Linked DNA regions of Homo sapiens: region 2 is linked to region 1. The links come from fine-mapping of genetic effects on gene expression. Tissue or cell type: whole blood. Region 1 holds a variant in brackets; the other region holds the start of a gene. All regions are shown on one strand. Distances are from middle to middle. Region 1 overlaps C5 (complement C5). Region 2 holds the start of C5 (complement C5).

What was found.
Region 2: C5 starts here. The variant in region 1 is fine-mapped to the expression of C5 in whole blood (INTERVAL, PIP 0.98).

The regions. Positions count from the first base shown.
Region 1 is chr9:121,021,027-121,029,026 of GRCh38, forward strand. It overlaps C5 (complement C5), which reads right to left. Exons shown (of 41, transcript NM_001735.3): 8 at 6,134-6,248; 9 at 4,428-4,554; 10 at 2,378-2,493; 11 at 483-668. Among named protein-coding and RNA genes, the nearest start is that of C5, 25 kb to the right of the region's middle. The variant G/A (reference allele first, on the strand shown) is at 4,695.
Region 2 is chr9:121,046,017-121,054,016 of GRCh38, forward strand. C5 (complement C5) reads right to left here and starts at 4,259. Exons shown (of 41, transcript NM_001735.3): 1 at 4,166-4,259; 2 at 175-367. The coding sequence starts at 4,230. LOC124902261 (a long non-coding RNA gene) reads left to right here and starts at 6,841. Exons shown (of 3, transcript XR_007061753.1): 1 at 6,841-7,089; 2 at 7,311-7,556.

The DNA of each region.
Region 1 (8,000 bases):
TATGTTATTGCTCATATTTTATTTGAGATTGGGAACTTAAATAATATTTGCTGCGAGAGAAGACTATTAAGTGGGCTCTAAAGTAGAATGGTTTCTGTAGTTAGAAAAAAGGGAGGCTTCCATATTTTTGACCCTTTTGTGGCCCTTCAGGGGATTAAAAGTGAGGGGGGAAGAGAGGATATTCCTAACACTCATGTGCACTGCTATACCTATTCTGAAGCTTCTAGAGTCTGATATGGTCTTAACGGTGTAAGATAAAACAATTAACTCCCAAATAAAAAATTGATACATTTATCTTCCTCAAGGACCATTCAATGGATTAGCAGATTGTCTCTGGGACTAATTTGTCTTGGATGCAAAATTATGGAACTGTTCACTGGACTCATGTGTAAAATCTGCCGCATCTGTTCTGCACACTAGCCAAAACACATGGTCAAGAGTACACATTGTCCTAGAAAATACAACAGGAGAATTCAGCTCACATTAAACTCCAGCACCGTCACTCCAGATGGGAGATTAAGCACAAAGGAAGCTACTCCATCATCAACACGTGTTACACTTTTGCTTGGATCCAAGTCAGATGTCTCTTGGTTTACATCAATTGTTTGTGCATTCAGTGTTACTGGGACTCCTCCTACCAACTGGTCAAGCGAATCTTTAACCTGCACCTGTTTGTCAAAACAATCCAAATCTATTTCAACAGCTCATCACTTATTTTAAAGCACAATTCTGAAATAATTTTCCTTCCTCCCCACCAAAGTATAAATTATTTATGTATTTTTTTCTGAAAATTTTTTTTCTGAGACAGAGACTTACTACGTTGCCCAGGTTGGAGTGCAGTGGCTATTCACAGGCACAATCATAGCGCACTGCAACCTTGAACTATTGGCCTCAAGCCATCCTCCCACCTCAGCCTCCCAAGTAGCTGGAACTATTTAGGCATGCTCCACCACACCTGGTTTACTTATGTTTAATTTAGTAAAGAGAAGTGTATTCTCAGCTTATAGAAAGATTTAATTCTATTTAGTTAAATCATTCTTGAATAGATTCTCCCATAAATCAAGCAAACTCAAAACATAAATATCATTCTATTAAGTCAGTCAAGGAGTAGGTGTGATAAGGTCTTCTGCTATCTAACTTCTGTATTTCTTTGATTGGTTTAGGACTGGATAAAGGAGAAAATGAGGCAATCGCTTCTGGGAATAAGTCCCTTGAATATGAGAAACAAAAATAGATACACCTTTTTTCCTTTAACATCTACCTCTCACTGCCATATATATATATATATACACACACAATTCCACACAGATATAGTTTGTTATTTTACTTTTATATAAACATATTTTAAGCTTATGTTCTATATAATATTGCTATATTTACATATTTTAGTATATATATTATATATTACTGTATATGCATTATATGATACTTTGTTATATATTATTTTCTATATATAGTATATATATGTAAGAACCTACAAGCATGTCCAAACCTTGCTTTGGGCTTGGTAAATCCTTTTTTTTCTTAAAAGCCCATGACCCACAGTAAATAATAAATAACACATTTTGATTGTACTTAAGTTGATTTTAAAAAGTAACACATTTTCAAAGAACAAAAAAAAATTTTGCTCTGGATTTCTAAATTAAGGGCAGGGAATAAACATTTCCATTTAATCAACATAATAAAATATATTATTTGTAATAAAATATATAATGATAGATAAAAATCTAAAAACCACATGAATGTTTCAATTCTATACTGTCAGCATTTAGAGGAGGAAAAGAAGGTGAAAGAGAGAAAAATGAATGCAGAGGAGTAAGCAAAAAAGACAGAAAAAAAGAGATTCAGGGACGGAAAGAAGCAAAAATGAAAAGAACAGAGAGCAATACAGAGACGAGAGATTGAACAGAGTTATGCACAAAGACAACACAGAGACAGAGGGAAACAAATGAGACACACTGGAGGCAAAAACATAGTGAGAGAAAGGAGTCTATTTTCAAGGAATGATATCTCCATCTTAAGGCTTTTTAAGAATTTGCCACCAAATAATTTTAAATGTTTGTATTTTTGAACTAGAGTCTTATGAGATTTTATTTACATATAATTTAATGCTTATTTATTACATGTAATTTAATGCTTATTTAGGGATGCCTAATACAAGGCTATCTTGCCCTCACTTTTGAAGTCATTGCCAAGGCTGCAGCTGACCTTCAATTTCCCATCCCTGTCTGTGTCCACCAGGAGGGGCAGGTTTCACAGAATAAGCTCCCTCTGTGACTTCATGGCAACATTCTTACCCTGTTTGCCACCCACATGTTTTCCATGAACAGAACAAGATGATCATATGTAGCAACGTCTACCCCCTCACCCAATCTACCTTGATGGGATATGGAATCCCAGGCTTCAGGAAAAGAGGAGTAGCAACCAAATTCAGTTTGTAGGGAGAGAGGACATATTTGATGCCAGGTATTTCTGCCTCTTCAGAAAATCCACCTAAGGAAATGGCAAGCATCATGTTGACAGTTTTTAGGAGTATCATGATCTGTATGGATATCCATTTCATCTCTATATGTCTCCACAGACTTATTCATTCACTCACTCCATTCTTGCATTCATTCATTTACCAGTAGTAAGTAGGACATAGGTCTTGCTTCAGAGGGGCACAGCAGAGAAGAGTTTAGACCTCAGGAGTTTCCAAGGCCTTATGCACAAGCTCGTATGTAGAGAAGCCCTTGGAGAAGTAGAGCTACAGGACTGGACTGAGGAAGGATGCCAGGAAGGGACACCACTTTTCATCAGTGGCCTGAGTTTCAGTTGACTGTATTCAAGGGATTGAGGAGAGAGGGAAGGGTCAGGCCAGAAACTGAGCCTTACAGAAGTGGAGGTGGGGGATGGGGGTTGGTGTTCACAGAGCATAGATACATAGAGAGAAATCAGAAAAAGGGAGCTTGATATAGAAAGAACCCTGAAAGGGAGTTCGAGACCAGCCGGGCCAACATGGTGAAACCTCATCCCTACTAAAACTAAAAAACGAAAACAAAAAAAGTGCCAGGCATGGTGGTATATGCCTGTAATCTCAGCTACTCGGGAGGCTGAGGCAGGAGAATTGCTTGAACCCAGGAGGCGGAGGTTGCATTGAGCTGAGACTGTACCACTGCACTCCAGTCTGGGCAACAGAGCAAGACTCGGGAGGGGAGGGAGGGAGGGGAGGGGAGGGGGGAGGGGGAGGGGGGAGTGGGAGGGGGGAGGGGGAGGGGAGGGGGAGGGGAGGGGAGCGGGAGGGGGGAGGGGGAGGGGAGGGGGAGGGGAGGGGGAGGGGAGGGAGGGGAGCGGGAGGGGGGAGGGGGAGGGAAGGGGACATGACCAGACAACTGGCAAGAGCCCAATAATGTTATCCTCCAGGTAAAGATTAAGTTAAACTATTAAGAATAACATTTGAAGCTTTAATATTCCCAAACTCCTTTCCAATATTACATCTCTAATACATTCTATACATATCCTATATTTTAGCCAAACTGGATGATCTGCTGTCCTCAAAGATTAAGCTTCACCATCTACTCTTCTTCATCTGCCCTCTCTCTGGAGGGTTTCTATTTCACCCTGTCTAGCAACTCTGCCTCAAAACCCTAATTATTTTTCAAGACTGATCATCTTCACAACACTGTTCTTGCTTGCTCAACAATCATCTAGAAGCTCACCTTCCTCTGAATCCTATTGCATTAATATTTTGCTTAGAGCTCATATGGAATTCTTTCTTGCAACAGTTCTTTCTTCACCTGTCTTATACCTGATGCTAATTTGTAAGCCACTTTAGTGCTGGCATCATACATCATTAATGTTTGCAAGCCTGTCTGTTTGGCAATACTTTAAATATCTCATAGATACTGCTTAAACTGAACTTATTTAAAATAAGTTGAGGAAAAAATAAAAAGAAGAAACATTAAAATAATGTTGAAAACTTTAGGCTTTAGGAAACATTCAGTTTGACTCCATCATTATGTAGACTATAATAATGATAATAGTAATAACTTTTATTTGTATAGTACTTTATCAAATAGTTTTACACACATAATCTTATTTTGGTTTTGATTTTCACCACGTGAGGACACTAGGGTGCCAAATGGTCAAGGCAGAGAGCCTGCAGAACTACTTTGGACATGAATTGGGTACTGTTTTCCCATTTTTGCAGTAGAAGTGGAGGTAATAGGGACCCAATGGCTTGTCCAATGACTAAAAAGAAGCAGAGCCCTACTGCCTTTTTATAACTATATAAAAGTCTACTTCTTATAATTATATTTAACTATGAAAGAAAATACAATGTGAAATAATTATAGAAATTGGAAATTATTTATATCTTTAATATTCTGTCTAAATATTTTTCAAAAGAAAGTATACACACACACACACACACACACACACACACTTACCTGTAGACTCTATGACTGTTACAGCAATATAAAGGTACTTGTTGTTTAAATCTTCTAAACTGTAGTATGACAGTTCTTTGACTGCTGTTTCAGAATCAAATGTGACTTGAGCAATTCCATTTATCAACTTTTTAAAAGGAGAAAAAGGAGGAGTTATTTCGGAGAAGAACTTATAAGGAAAAATTAATAAAATCTGCTTTTACTAACCTCTAAATTGAAGGTAAATGTCAGAAGAATGGTTTAGTGTCAAAAGTAAAGTAGATAACC[G/A]AGTCCACGATTAAGCCCAGGATGTTATTTTCTAATTATTTGTATAGAATTATAGAAGTAGAAGGGTCTTGAACATCACATGGTCCAACAGGTCTTTTTGGTAATAGCTGACAAACACGACTTCTTCCAATTCCTGCGTCATCATTCATCTTTATAGGCCTCTCAGCGTACTTCCGCCCTTAACTGAGAGTTTGTTGGTTTTTATAATATTTAATTTGTACTTCACTGCTTACAAATTTAAATACTAATTTTAAAACACACAATGAGTAAAGGGATGTGGGGTTAAGTCATATTATATTATTTAATTATTAACACAACAGTAAAATAAACTTTGCCTTATTTTTTCTTATAAAATTGAGCGACTTGAGGGCAGGCATTTTTGTCTTATTTAGCTTTACATCCCAGTGTCTAGCATAGAATTTTGCATTTTAAAAATGCATTTAATTTACATCTTGAATTAATAAGATTGTAGAGGATAAATGATTGATGATGCAAACCAAATGAATACGAAAAAGTGAGCAAAAATGACATGAACTCATATCATCTGTGGTATAATGTAAAGAATGCTGAATAAGGGAAAGGGAACCAGCGCCCTAATCTCAGTTCCAGCAATCATTAGCCCTAAACTATGGACAAATAACTTCATGAATATTTCCTTGCAAGAAACTATGCTGTCTCTGGGCATATAAGGGAAATGATTCAGACTCACAAATAGTTTAATATTGAAAATGATAGATAAGTAAACAAGCCATTCCAGTAAAGAAGGGTTTCTCAACCCCTCAGCATTATTGACATTTTGAACAGGATAATTCTTTGTTGTAGGGGCCTGCCCTGTGCATGGTAGGAATTTAGCAGCATCCCCGGCCTCTCCCTAGTAAACACCAGTAGCAACCACAAATGTCTCTGGACATTGCCAAATGTCTCCTTGGGAATAAAAAATCACCCCTAGTTGAGAACCGCTGCAATGAAATGTGAAGAATGTGTTAAGAAAAGAGGCTATACAGCCGGGGCAGCTAACCTAGTGTAGAAGAGTCAGGGGAGGCTTCCCAGAGAAAGGCTGTCAATGTTGAAACTTAAAGAATGAGAAGGAATTAGCCAGGCAAAGAAGGGGCAGGAGGTGACAATGGGAAAGAGCATTTTCAAGCAGAATAAATGATATTGTAAAGACCTGGAGGCAAGAGAGACTTTGGTCAGTTAGAGAAATTGGAGTGATTAATACAAAGGGGAGGGAGGGAGGAAAGGGCATGAGATCAGCTGGTAAGGGAGGCTGATGCCAAGGAAAATGAACTTTACCCTAAAGGCAAAGGGAAGCCAATGGAGGATTTTAAGTTTCAACCTATCTAAAATGGGGGATTGGACTAGATGGTTTTTAAGTAACTTCTCATCTCTCACCTCTGGATGCATCTGTAGGTGTGAGTGACTGTGTCTTAACATCTTACCATTGTGTTTTGCATTGCTGTTTGCATCATTTCTTTTTGATCATCTTTTAAGTCTTCTCTTATTCCAAATGTGATATAAACGTCAGCCTCAGTGACTACTTTATTATAAAAATATCTGTCAGACAATAGCATAAAACTGTTTTACTAACATGGTTACAATAACAGGATTCAGATAAAATGTAACAATTTGAAATTACGTAAAGCACTTGAGGCACTTTAAAGTGTCTTTCATCCTAAGCAAAAAGAACAAAGCTGGAGGCATCATGCTACCTGACTTCAAACTATACTACAAGGCTACAGTAACCAAAACAGCATGGTACTGGTACCAAAACAGATATATAGACCAATGGAACAGAACAGAGGCCTCAGAAATAACACCACACATCTACAACCATCTGATCTTTGACAAACCTGACAAAAACAAGAAATGGGGAAAGGATTCCCAATTTAATAAATGGTGATGGGAAAACTGGCTAGCCATATATAGAAAGCTGAAACTGGATCCCTTCCTTATATCTTATACAAAAATTAATTCAAGATGGATTAAAGACTTACATGGTAGACCTAAAACCATAAAAACGCTAGAAGAAAACCTAGGCAATACCATTCAGGACATAGGCATGGGCAAGGATTTCATGACTAAAACACCAAAAGCAATGGCAACAAAAGCCAAAATTGACAAATGGGATCTAATTAAACTAAAGAGCTTCTGCACAGTAAAAGAAACTACCATCAGAGTGAACAGGCAGCCCACAGAATGGAGAAAATTTTTGCAATCTACCCATCTGACAAAGGGCTAATATCCAGAATCTACAAAGAACTTAAACAAATTTACAAGAAAAAAACAAACAACCCCATCAAAAAGTGGGCAAAGGATATGAACAGATACTTCTCAAAAGAAGACATTTATGCAGCTAACAGACACATGAAAAAATGCTCATCATCACTGGTCATCAGAGAAATGCAAATCAAAACCACAATGAGATACCATCTCACACCAGTTAGAATGGCAATCATTAAAAAGTCAGGAAACAACAGATGCTGGAGAGGATGTGGAGAAATAGGAACGCTTTTACACTGTTGGTGGGAGTGTAAACTAGTTCAACCATTGTGGAAGACAGTGTGGCAATTCCTTAAGGATCTAGAACTAGAAATACAATTTGACCCAGTGATTCCATTACTGCGTATATACCCAAAGGATTATAAATCATGCTGCTATAAAGACACATGCACACGTATGTTTACTGCAGCACTATTCACACTAGCAAAGACTTGGAACCCACCTAAATGCCCATCAATGATAGACTGGATTAAGAAAATGTGGCACATATACACCATGGAATACTATGCAGGCATAAAAAAGGATGAGTTCATGTCCTTTGCAGGGACATGGATGAAGCTGGAAACCATCATTCTGAGTGAACTACCACAAGGACAGAAAACCAAATGCCGCATGTTCTCACTCACAGGTGGGAACTGAACAATGAAAACACTTGGACACAGTGCGGGGAACATCACACTCTGGGGCCTGTCATGGGGTGGGGGACGGGGAGGGATAGCATTAGGAGAAATACCTAATGTATGATGAGTTAATAGGTGCAGCAAACCAACATGGCACATGTATACCTATGTAACAAACCTGCACGTTGTGTACATGTACCCTAGAACTTAAAGTATAATAATAATAAATAAAGTGTCCTTCATGCACTATTACATTTCATCCTCATAAAGCCACATTAATAAAGCTATGTGCTAGATGAAAAAAATTGATCTTGGGGAGATCACAAGACTTAGAATCAGGGCCCTCTCCTATATGCCAAATTACTTCCTTGATAATTTTGATATCAGCTACTCTCTGTTTTCTTTT
Region 2 (8,000 bases), 25 kb after region 1:
CTGTTTCTGTTAGAATTTTCACTTACATTATCATTAGTGACTGACATCATCTAATAATCCCACAGTGGATGTAAATGATTAAATCTATATGTTATCAATATTCAAACTTTGTACACATTTTTATTGAGAATATTCTGTATATATATATAAAGAAAATAAAGGATAAATACATACTGTTAAGATTGCAGAGTTTTGGAATTTATTCTCTGAGGATAAATGAACATGGCCTGAGGAGTAACTAAATTTTTTATCAGGATAACTTTTAATAGAGATTGTTGCATCAAATGCTTCAGTGTATCCATAAACTTGAATCACAATATTTTCAGATGCTCCAACACGGAATATTTTTGGTGCTGAAATGACATATCTGTTGAAAAAGGAAAAGATAAGGCTCAATGTCTTTATATGACATATTTTCTTTTACTTTTGATTTTTTTCTCTCACTTGAGAGATTCCATTTAAAATACATATATTTCCTCACTTAAAAATGATACTAATAAGTCAAAATGTACTTGTGACCCACCATAACTTCAGCATAATTTCCAAGTAGTTTGGAATTAAGACCTGAGAAGCTGGAGGTTTAGTTTACATTTAGAAAGTTAAGGTGATAGCAGCACTTTCTCTTAGCTACTGCAGCCAAGGAAGACTTTTAATCATGTTGACCAGAACATGTAAATGGGGTCAATATTTTTTGCTCAATGAAGAAAAAAGCAGTGATTGAATTCCAGCTGTGGCATCTGCTGGCTGAGTGACCGTGGTAAAGTCACTAAGTCTTTCTGAGGCTAAAATAACTTACTGTGAAAATAATCGCCTTCTTTACCAGGCTCTGGTAAAGATTAAATAAGAACATATATATGAAAAGGTCTAGCACTCTTAGTACTCAATACATGTTAAGATTTATTAATCTCACTAAATTAGTTTAAAGGGAGTGATCTTAGAAATACTATGTTATACTAGTAAACGGATAACGGAAAGGATAGAATATGAGTGAGCTGGGAAGTGCATTTGGAAATGGAAATAGTGATGATGGTCCTTTAAGAGCAAATCATCATCTTCAAACAATAATGGTAATTAAGTACTTGCCACATATCAGAGGCTGTATCAGCACTTTACATACAGCTCTTGTTAATTTTTACAATAAGCCAATGATGCTGGTACTATCATTATTCGTACTTTGCAAGTGGTAAAAGGCTAACTTGGCTAAGGTTATACGGTTTGTAAGTAAATGGGGGAGGCCTTTATATGAGTTCTCAGTTGTTATGTGTACAGTTGAGGTCAAGTTTATATGTTATTCACAACCATAGACTGTTCTCTTATTTTTACTTTTCATGTGATTTATACAATAATGGAAGTGAGTCTATACATGCTTTTGAGTGATTTTTAAAAATTATTTTATTTAAAAACTTACAAATATAAACTGGATTACTAAGTGTATATCACAAGAGTATCTAATTTGAATAGCGAGAACTACATACGCTATTACATAGGAAAAAAAAGTGTTTTAACCCAAAAGGGCATAGTGATCGACTAATTCAAGTGGCCCAACAAGCTTGGAGGGCACCCACCACCCCACCTGGCAGAATTATTCCAGGCTTCTGCCAACATTGTGACATTTTAAGAGTCTGGTAAAAGCAGGAAGTTTTTAGTAACAATGGAATTAATTTATCAGCAATTAAATCCTTTAAAGCATCTGACAGTTATCCTGCATTACAATTAATTTGGATCCACTTACAGGCAAATTACAAAAGAGAGGAAAGAATTTCCAGATTTCCAACCATCATCTGAATTCCCCTTCCCCACATGCCTAGTAGGAGATGGCAGAAAATGAGAGGAGTTCAGTTTTTATGATAATAAGATATATTTACTGAAATTTTGCCCTGTGATAAGGCACTATTCTGAATACTTTATTTGTATAAACTCATTGTGTCATTACAACCACTCTGTGAGGAACTATTACTCCAATTTTAAGGTGAAGAAACTGCTAATTAATTTTCCCAAGGCCACACATATAGGATTTATGAATTCTATAATTCACAAATTATAGAATTAGAAATCGAACCTGAGCAGCCCGTTTCCAGAATTAACATTTTCAACTGTTGTACTAAATGGAATTTATAAAGAGTTTTGTAATTAGAAAAATTTAGGGATATAAAGCTACTTTAATTTCAGTATTTATAGAAGCTTTATGTTTTTAAGTTTAGTATTGCTTTAATTTTGAATTGTGTATGGTAGGGGTCCCCAACCCCTGGGCCATGGACAAATACCAGTCCATGGCTTGTTAGGAACCAGGCTACACAGCAGGAGGTGAGCAGTGGGGCAAAGGAGCATTACCACCTGAGCTCTGCCTCCTGTCAGATCAGTGGTGGCATTAGATTCTCCTAGGAGCATGAACTCTATTGTGAACCGCACATGCGAGGGATCTAGATTGCAAGCTCCTTATGAGAATATAATGCCTGATGATCTGAAGTGGAACAGTTTCATTCTGAAACCATCCCCACCCCAATCCTGGTCCATGGAAACATTGTCTTCCACAAAACCTGTCCCTAGTGCCAAAATGGTTGGGGACTGCTGGTCTATGTGATGGTAGCCGTCAAGCAAAAATACATAGTGTTTAGAAGCCCCTAAAAGAATATTCTGGAACCACCCTTTATAAAGATTTTGGTTCTTATTGACTTATCAGTAGCATAATCTATCCATATAAATAATTTCATAGTTTTCTTTGTCTTTCAATTGCTGCAGAGGAGCAGGAGCTTGCAGAGAGGCAAGAATGTTATTTTGGCCTCTATCTGGAATGCTCTTTCCTCAAATATTTGCATGGTTTGCTTCCTCACTTCCTTCAGGCTCTGTTTGAGTGCAGCCTCCTTAAGAGAACCTTTCCTGGCCACATTTTAAAATAGTGCCCCATAATTATTTTTTAATTCTCATACTCTGCTTTATTTTTTTCTTCATAATACTACCTACCTGACCTTACACATTCTTTCATTGGTTCATTCATTCATTACTTGCTTCTCCCACTAGAATGCAAGCTCTAGGAATTGTCTTACCGTTTGCTATATCTGCAGTGCCTATCATATGTTTAGATGCTCAATAAATATTTGTTGAATCAATCAATCAACCAATTAATTAAAGTGATTGATTGCCATGTTGTAAATGGTACACTCTGACTTCTTCAGAGAAAGTGAGGAAATAATTTTTATTAAGGGCTAGTAGAAAGAATTCAGAATAAGTCTGGACAAGAATCATGGAACCCAGGTCCTAGCCCTAGTTCTGCCACCAATTTGAAGTCACTTAATTTCAGTCTCTCTAAGCCTTAGCTGCTCGTCTTTCAAAAAGAATAAAGGCAGGATGCTAAGGTAGTTGAGTGCTTGTGGCCATGTAAAAAGATCACAGATCAGAAATACGAGGGTGCTAAAAAAGAATGACATCCTAAGTATGTGTTTATATATAATATATTTACATGTATACATTTATGACAAAATGAAAAAAATTGAAGTGATAAACAGGAGACCTTAATAAAAATCCTGTTTCTCTCTCTCTAGAACTGTGACCTTTGGTCAGTCACTTCCCTTATCTGGACTTATTCTCATATATAAAATGAATAGGTTTGATTAGATGATCTGCAGTTACTTTTCAGTATTAAAATATTTCTAGATATAAGATCATTATTTTTAAAACATTACTTAAAATGCATATTATCTCAATAATGACACTAAAAATTGTGAAAAGTCAGCTCATAAATGTATGGTAGAAGTCACTACAACAACAGATTTTCAGATCACAGTATTAGATTGACTCCTAAATAACCCTGGTTTAACTGTGTATAGTCTATGAAAAACACAAAGAAAACTAAACACCAAGTTAAAATAAGCAAAAAATGTCAAGAAAGTTTATTATCTGGAGTTTCTTTTGTGCTTTTTTGAAGAGGAATTTGAATAATCACTTAACGTAAATTTTAATAAATAACAATTCCATAAAAGCTGTCATGTTGTTAGCTACTCATCAAATCAAAATGCTTCCATGACTTTCTCATTCAGAGATGATACTATTCACTTGCTGTTCTCAGAAGTAGCAAGTTATTTTCAAGTTAACAGAATCTGTTAAATTTAACTCTTCATTCGTCATAACTAAGATGCATTGAAAAATGAAGATAGCTTGTTTTACTTACGTTTGCTCCTGTCCCCAGGTTTTCCCCAGGAAGATTAAAAAACAAAGTATTCCCAAAAGGCCCATGGTTGGAGGTAGCAGGAAACCACGGATATAACACTTTTGAGGATAGTCTCCTTTTAAATAAACTGAACTTGAAGAATTCAGATAATCTGGTTAATTATTAATGTCAGAAAGGTGAACCTCTAAGTGGGAAAACTAGAATTGGAACTAAAACACCCTTTCATGCCCAGGAATACAGATAGGGAGTACTTTACAGGAACTTACACCCAGGGAATTTATTTTTATTAATACAAATAAAGGGACCCTAAAATGGGAATTTGGCACTATGAAGAGTGGCTCAAAGCTAGAAACCAGTAAGCCCATTGCTTTGGCCTTTCTTCTCTTGCCCAGGGCATTTGCTTTGATGTTGCATCATCTGCAAGCATACATCTGGCAGGTCCACTCTAATACTGATGAAGACCCACCTGGACTCAGTTTCACACTGAAATGATTTTAGAAGGGGCCTGGTTTAGACAGGGCTCACAAGATGATCTTTTTTTGGTGACCTGAATGGCAGTGTCCTTGGTGCTGCAAATGGTCTGAGCATAACCTAGCTCTGCAAAGGAGGTCTAGGGAATTGTTCCTTGGTCTGTCTCAGTCTAGAGAACACTAGGTGGAGGAAAGTTGTGACTGGCAATGAAAACGCCATGTGGAGGATGCTGTCGTCATTCTCTAAGTATTGGAGAATAGATATTCTCCAATATTTATTAAGGCATATACCACTCGTTCAAAGTTTGTCTTTATTCAGATATAGAATATCTTTCTTTTAAAGAAAACACATGTTATACTTTTCAGTGAGGATTTTAATAATTTTAATATAAGAGCTCCAGAAAAACAAAGCTTCCTATAACAATTGAGTCTAGTAATTAATTCACAATATACTAAAATTTTATCTTTATACTTTTTTTTTTTTTTTTGGAGACAGAGTCTCTTTCTGTCGCCCAGGCTGGAGTCTAGTGGCACTATCTTGGCTCAGGGCAACCTCTGCCTCCCAGGTTCAAGGCATTCTCCTGCCTCAGCCTCCCAAGTAGCTGGGACTACAGGCATGTCCCATCACATCCAGCTAATTTTTTGTATTTTTAGTAGAGGTAGGGTTTCACCGTGTTGGCCAGGCTGGTCTCGAACTCCTGACCTCAGGTGATCCACCCACCTTGGCCTCCCAAAGTACTGGGATTACAGGCATGAGCCACTGTGCCTGGCTGATTTTTAATTAAGTTAATTTTTATGATGTTTTATGTTCATTAGAATTTTTTTATTTACTACCTTCTCTTTTTTAGTACTATTTTTACCTTAATATATAATATGTACTCTTCTTTAAAATAATAAAACAGATGTCTCTAAACATATTTCTATAATGAGATATTTATGATATATAAATGAGATATTTATGGTCACATTGGCATTCTTTGCTTTGAATTAATAAATAATAAACCAAAAATATTTATAAACACTTTAATGCTGAATTCACTAGGGAAAAAAGGAGCACAAAGGGAAATTTGATATACAAATTTCACTAAAGGTATCTCTTGCATATGTCATTGAAATGACAAACATTTGCCACTATTGTCTGATCATCTAGCCCATTTATTTCAAAAGGGAATCTGTGAAATGATTAAGCTGGGTTGCAAAAGATGGGTCAAGTTAAAACAAACAGTACTTTTGCCATCATTTTTGGGAAATGAAATTTAAGAGAGAACAACAACACTCAAATCAAGGTAGGTAATATTTGTATTTTAAGTGCAAATAAGTTTGTTTGCTTGAGCTATAGAGTAAATACTGATAACCAATATTTGCAAGCCATTGTCCTGTTTCTCTGGTAGAAAACATTTAGAGAATGATGGATCTCAAAGATTCTCAACAGAACTGAAGTTTAACAATTTATAGATTCTAAGCTGTGTTTAGTCAAAATTTTTTATCTACCTTCTAAATGTGGCTCACAGATGAACTTTTGAGGCTGGGCACGCTGGCTCACACCTGTAATCCCAGATCTTTGGGAGGCCGAGGTGGGTGGATCACCTGAGGTCAAGAGTTCAAGACCAGCCTGGCCAACATGGCGAAAACCCGCCTCTACTAAAAATACAAAAATTAGCCAGGCGTGGTGGCGGGTGCCTGTAATCCCAGCTACTTGGGAGGCTGAGGCAGGAGATTCACTTGAACCTGGGAGGTGGAGGTTGAGCACAGATCACGCCACCGCACTCCAGCCTGAGCAACAGAGCCAGACTCCATCTCAGAAAAAAAAAAAAAAAAAAAAGATGATTTTTTTTCTTTATAATTTAAAATGTGACCTTTGGTAAGCCTTTCATTTTTATACAAATACTGCATTTCTAAAAGAGAAGAAACTCAGATCTGGCAGAAAGTTTGGTGGTCACCTGACCTTCCTGCTAATGCTGCCTCAATTGTCCCCTCATGATTGAGCCCAAATGACCTAGCCTAGTGCACCAGGCCCCTCTTGAGCCCTGCTTAGTTCTCCAGCCTCAACATTCCATTCTTCACTCCGGCCAAGGAGCTGAATTACCTGATTATTCCCTGAAGTCACCTTGACACCAAGGTGCTCCTAGCAGGATAATAATTTTGTATCTTTCAAATGGATATTCTTTAGTTATTTTGTACTTACTTGGTAAAATATGTCTGGACACCAATTTTCTATTAATACAAACTACAGAACTCTTTTTTATGTATAATAAAAAGATTTTATCATGTATAATTTTCAAAATCAGACAGCTTACAGGGAGGTATATTAATGGGTTGTAAATTTAGAGAATAAAAAATAAGTGACATTGTGTTTGTTATTGTTTTCAGAAATTCAGCCCATCAGATTGCGAACTTCAAGTGCCTGCTGGCTGGCTAGAGTAAGAGAGGTGATGTGACCCATAGCTGCCCCAGGTAATTTTCATGTGCCTGTTCCATGTCCAGAGGCCAGTGGAGAAACAGAGGCGTCTCCTCAGAATTAAATTATTCTAAATGGAGACACGGGAATCATACAAGTTTTGTTCAAGAGTGGTAGGCTGGCACTAGGCAGGTGGGTTATTCTAAGTAAAACCCAGTATTTGTCCCTCTGACTGCTTTTTGGCTCAAGCCCGCAGTCTCACGTTTTAATCCTTTAGGAGAAAGGCTCTACTAAAAGGCCAACTGAAATCCAAAAAGAACTACTTCAGTAACTCTCCATGGGATATAGAGGAGAAAGGCACTGGAGGCTTCGGTGCCAGCAGTTTAAAGACTGACTGGAGAGAGGGCGGAGGTGGAGCAAGATGGCTGAATAGAACCCCCCCCGAGATAGTTCTCCACACAGGAACACCAAATAGAACAACTATCCACGCAAGACAGCACCTTCATAAAAGCCATAAAATCAGGTGAGTGATCACAGTGCCTACTTTTACCGTAATGATAAGGAAAGAGGCATTGAAGATAGGGTGGGGGTAGGGGGGAAGATCTCCCTGTATTGCCTATACCACCCCTCCTCCAACCACAGGCTGCACAGCAGGAAAGAGAATCCGTGTGCTTGGAGGAGAGAGAGCAAAGTGAGTGTGGGACTTTGCACTGGAAGTCAGTGCTGCCCCGTCATGGTGGAACATAACACAGGACAGAATTCTGCAGGCGCCTAGAATTCTGACAGTGCATTTAGGCAGGCCTTGGGACAGAGGAGAATTCTGTGCTCCAGAGGGAGAAACCCAGGTCATGGCTAGCTTCACCACTGGCTAACTAAAGTGGTCTGAGGTCCTGAGTCTATTTGAGTGGCAGTCAGGACACAAGGACTAAAGTGTGTAGACTAAACATAAAATGCTAAGCACCCCCAA